Linked DNA regions of Homo sapiens: region 1 is linked to region 2. Evidence: fine-mapped expression QTL. Tissue or cell type: whole blood. Region 2 holds a variant in brackets; the other region holds the start of a gene. All regions are shown on one strand. Distances are between the middles of the regions.

Evidence for each region. PIP is the estimated chance that this variant, and not a neighbour inherited with it, causes the effect.
Region 1: ESR1 starts here. The variant in region 2 is fine-mapped to the expression of ESR1 in whole blood (TOPMed, PIP 0.98).

The regions. Positions count from the first base shown.
Region 1 is chr6:151,806,168-151,808,931 of GRCh38, reverse strand. It overlaps ESR1 (estrogen receptor 1), which reads right to left and starts at 1,250. Exons shown (of 8, transcript NM_000125.4): 1 at 568-1,250. The coding sequence starts at 1,019.
Region 2 is chr6:151,690,410-151,693,173 of GRCh38, reverse strand. It overlaps a transcript of ESR1 not described here. Among named protein-coding and RNA genes, the nearest start is that of ESR1, 120 kb to the left of the region's middle. The variant G/AAG (reference allele first, on the strand shown) is at 1,462.

The DNA.
Region 1 (2,764 bases), 120 kb before region 2:
GGGAAAGCGGGTGACAGGAATCGCTTCCCAGAAAGTCATCATCATAGCTGACATATTTCCAATCAAATAGTCTAGATGAAAGGAAATTTGGGGAGCACATTAAACAAAAACATTAAAAGGATAAATAAAACTCTGCTGAGCTCTGCTAACTCCAAACACCCCCAACTTTAAATGCCAAGAGCGAGACCTTCCCAAGTGACTCAAAGCGCCCCGTGTTTATTTGCCTGGAGGTGTTTTCCCCCACAAATAACTGCTGCTTTGTCTGGTTTTCCAACGTGTGTTTTGTTAGGAAGCCCGGGCTTTCGGGTCTGCCTCTCGCACGGACGGTAAGTGGGTGGAGAGTACGTTTTTTTCAGCTGCCCGGCGAGAGAACTTGACTCTGAACGCAGCGCGGGCTGCACGCAGAACCCCCGGGCTGGGCCGCGCGCCCCGGGCTCCCTGCGCGCACCCTCGGGTCGCGCGTCCCGCGGCTCCCGCAGCTCCCTAGGCTCTCCCTTCTCCCTCCCTCCCTCCCTCCCTCCTGCCGGGCGCGGCGGCCACCCCGACGGGCGGCGCGGGCGCGGGTACCTGTAGAATGCCGGCGGGCCGGCCTCGCGCACCGTGTAGCCGCTGGGCTCGTTCTCCAGGTAGTAGGGCACCTGCTGGCCGTGGGGCTGCAGGAAAGGCGACAGCTGCGGCGGCGGGTGCAGTAGCATCAGCGGGCTCGGAGACACGCTGTTGAGTGGGGGGAAACCCCCCAGGCCGTTGGAGCCGAACGCCGCAGCCTCAGACCCGGGGCCGTAGGGGAGGCCGGTCTGACCGTAGACCTGCGCGTTGGCGGCGGCCGCGGCGTTGAACTCGTAGGCGGCGCCCTCGGGGTAGTTGTACACGGCGGGCTTGCTGCTGTCCAGGTACACCTCGCCCAGGGGCCGCTCCAGGGGGATCTTGAGCTGCGGACGGTTCAGGGGCTCCAGCTCGTTCCCTTGGATCTGATGCAGTAGGGCCATCCCAGATGCTTTGGTGTGGAGGGTCATGGTCATGGTCCGTGGCCGCGGGCAGGGTGCAGACCGTGTCCCCGCAGGGCAGAAGGCTCAGAAACCGGCGGGCCACCTGGAAAAAGAGCACAGCCCGAGGTTAGAGGCGACGCAGCGCATGTCCCGCCGACACGCGAGCTCTGGCCCCGGCCCTGCCCCGGGAGCCTGCGGGTCCGGTGAAGCCGGGCGACCCGACGGGAGCAAGTGCAGTCCCAGGACGAACGCCCTCCGCCAGCTCCTGGGCTCCCGGGCCTCCAACTTTAAGTACTGGTCTCCCGAGCTCATATGCATTACAAAGGTGCTGGAGGACGGCCAGGGACTGTTGCCTTGCCCTGACATTGGCTTAAACATCACTCCAGGCACAACTCGATTTGGAGCGATCCCAAAGAGCAGCTTCCCTGAACTTTACTTTACTTGTCGTCGCTGCTGGATAGAGGCTGAGTTTCACGGCCAGGGGGCGGGGGCGCACGAGGATCTGCTAAAGGTGGCCCAGGGAAGACTGGGCTTAAAATAAACGCGAAAGACGGATCCAGGGGCCGGCTTTCTCTAATGTGCTGCCTTATGTGCCCCGTGCCAGACTCCGATATATCTCTGTTTGTCTCTCTTTCTGTTTGATTCCCCCTCCTCGTTGGCTAGAAATACGTAGTGTGTACATAGGATGACCCTGGGGAGGACTACACTGTAACCGAGATAGGGCAGATAGAATGGGGTGTGCGGTTGCATACGCAGCCAGCCACAGACAGCTATATTTAGCAGCTGGGGGAACTGACAGGGGGCATCTGAGGGGAAGGGGGCGGAGATTCAGGGTATACATATAGGAAGAGCTGCATTTTGCCATCAGGAGAATGCAACCTGCCAGGACCTCAGTTTCTTCCTCTGCAAAATGCTCCCAAAGTAGATAGACCCTTCCACAACCTTCTGAGATTCTCTCAGCCTGACTTGTGTGTTTATGTTGGACCACAGTACTGTACTTGGTCCCATTAGGAATTCTCATGTGAAGGATGATTCAGAAAAACCTTTGGTTAGGGCGCACATGGGTGTTCATGCCTTCCACAGGTTGGTTATGCAACCAAAACTTCAGAAAACTGAATATAAAATGTGACCTTTTCATACCAAACATAACCTCAGGTCACGAACCAAAGCTTTGGCAATTATGTTACATTGTCGGTCTGGTCCAGCTAACAGATTTTTAAAATGCATTTCTGCATGTCTATCCTTTAGTCCTACAACTCGATCTTCTCGGTTCACTTGGGCTAGGATATGCAGAATCAAATATCCAGATGAAAAACAAATAGAAAAAAGTTTTTAACTGAATTAAAAGTTAAACATGCACACGCACATACACACACACATATATGTGTATATATATATATATATATATATATATACATATTAAGGAGACAAAAAATAGGTGAAGTATATCATGCGTCTATAATCTTGGATAGTTTATACTTTTGAATAAACTTCCTTTGCTGCAGCCTAATAGACTCTGATACAACTATCAATACTTTGTTTTAATTGCTATCCCAAACACCCAACAGAGTATCTGACGAAGTGTTCATGGTCTATCTAAATGCCAAGCTTACTGTTACTAAGAGTTACATTTTTGACTATTTTATATCAAGTATACATTTTATCTAATTCTTACAAAAATAGACCATTGTTGGACAATATGCAAATGTAGCTGAAGCCAAAATCGAGTTTAGCATTAATGACTATAGATTGTCAGCAAATAAAGGGTTAAAAACACA
Region 2 (2,764 bases):
CTTGGAAACTGCAAGGAGTTTAATGAGTGGCTTAATGTCATTTATTCCATATAATATATCTGGTAGCTACTGTTAGTACTCCCACTTTGCAGATGAGAAATTCAAGGCATGAGGTTAAATAATCTGCCTCTAAATTGCACAGCTAGAGAGTGGTGGGAGCTATGGCTGGTACTCAGTCATTTTCCATGGATCTGAATTAAACTACTTAATATCAGAATTCTTACTGAAGAGTGATCTGCTGTGGAAAACCTGAGCAGAGGTATCAGCTTTCCAGCGAATATTTTTAGGGGCAGATGGATAGGGTAAGCCCCTTCATTCTCCGAAAGAATCACAGACTTTCAGAGAGAAAAATGTTATACGCCTTAGATAGAACGATAAAACTCAATGATGTGTACGCTTTTGCTGTTGGGTCCAGTGGGAATGATTCAGAGGAAGTCTACTGAGATGTTGCCCAGAAGGCAGGCACACCATCATCACTCTTACCTGTACAGTGCACGCCTTTCAAAATAGCACTTCATTAGACAATATGCAGGAGGTTTCACAGATGGCGCCTCTTTCTCGGAGATTAACAATGGAGACCCTCTCCTGATAGAGGTGGATGGACAGGACCATATCTCCACTGCCATAGATGAAGACTATGCTATGACTTTTTTTTTTACAGTGTGGATGGTCTACCCAGAGCTGGGTCACTCTCTTCCTTGCCCTTTTTTCCGAATAGCCAATCTGCAGTCCTGGAGCACAGCTGTTCCCTATTCAAAGCAAAGTAAACTCAACCACCAGGCCGTCAGCCCAAGCGATTGTTCTGAGCAACTAGGATAAATGAATGCAGACAGACTCAGAGAAGACCTGCAGATAACCATGTGAAAATGTTTAGCAGATGCCTGATGTAAATACTTACACTGTGTGGAGGTTTAGAGTGAGTGTTTGAAGGGAAGGTAGATGGTAGCTAGCTCTAAACCCAATATTGAACAAAAAGACACAGAGTTATCAGAAACGAAAGATAGTTGGACTTTGTTCTTGCTGCAAGTTTAAGACACAAGAGCTTTATTCCTTTCCTTGACTGTCACAAGCAATAAAATGAAACACGTATCTCCAAATGTCCAAGAAAAATCTTCTACTCGTAAATACGACGCTTGTATTCTTAAGGAAAATTTTGCTTTTTTCCTACATGTCGTATCTTTTACCTACATTGTTTTTATTTGTAATTTCCTTGAAAATCTGACATTCTAGAGTATTTTATCCAACTGCTACAGCATTATCTGCATGCATTCCAAGGCCTAGTGGGCAGTCATCACAGGATATTAACAAAATCAAAGAAAATATTTGCTTTTGAGAAATAGGAAGGGATTTTATGGTATACAAATGGACCCTGAACCATCCATGGTTCTCAAACATTCTCATCCAATTTAAGTTCTCTGTACGTTTCAGAATTCAGTTCAAATACTTCTACCTGGTCTTCCT[G/AAG]TTTACTCTCAATATTAAAATATGTATATACCACATTCAAAACCAGATGAGTTTCCCAGCAACCTCATATACATGGAGTTGCTCTGTAAGCCTATTAGATCTGGCACATAAAGGCATTAAAAATCTGGCACCTTTAAGCAGGAACCATTGCCATGATCACAAGTCCTGATTAAGCCCAACCCTTCTATCGAGTAAATTGCTTTAAAATCTTTTAATCATGTTGGCTCCTACGGACTTGTTTGAGAGAATACTGGTTATCTTCTTGACAAAGTATGAAACTTACAGTTCAGCGAGCATTTCCTAAGACATGTGGCATTCCTCTAACCAAAATGAAAGTATTCTGCCCTGTCTTGTGACTGCCACATCATTACCCGAGTAGCCCACTGCTATATGTGGTGGAGTCATTATGTATGTGCCATTGTGAGGCAAAAAGGAACTGAGAAAATGGGACACCAGGACTCAAAAGAGCTTGCTTAAAATCAGAGGCCCATTTCAAGACAGAGGGGCTCGTTCTTTTGCTGCTAAATGTGTAGCTTTTCAGAAAACTTGACTGCCTTTAGGAAACAAATAATGGCTTATTCACATCGCTTAGTTCAAACTCACGTAAGTTATGGCTCCAAAGATTCAGAAAACAGGTAGTGTGTTCATGCTACTCTGAGATTTGTCCAATTAAGAGCTTATAAAATTCTAACACAGTTCAACAATACAGTGTCTCCTAGCTAGTGCTAGATCCAATACATTTATGTTATCTGGAACAGACAGGCAGCCTGTGTGTGCTGTACTAAGAAAAGGGTAGTCGGATTGCCCTCTGCCTCAGCTAAATATTATTCTAGAAGTGAATTTCCACTGTACCAAGTTTAGATTTCACATTTTATCATCCCAGGAATACTTGCCAGTAACTTTGCAAAATATCCTTGGAGCAGAAAGACAAAAAAATGAACATTTTTTAAAGATGAGAGGTAAGCTCTGAAGTTACAATATGCTTGTAAACAGTAGCACATTATATCAAAAAGGAAAAAATAAATTGAGAAGAAATAGGAGTACCTACTTGAAGAGAAGATTATCACTCAGAGACTGTCTTCTTATGCTATAGAATGGGCAGGAGAAAGGAGCATGGACCTTTCGAGCCTGTTAAAGAGCTTCTGAGCATGGAGCCTGCATTTTCAGTTTTGGTAAAATCCGTTCTGAGTCGGTAGACAGGAGGCTGTTATGACCATGAAATTAGGAAATGCAGTAACTCAAAAATAAAGAACTAGCACCACCATTTGACTAGGATTGGAAAATCTCATTGAAAAAATAGAGG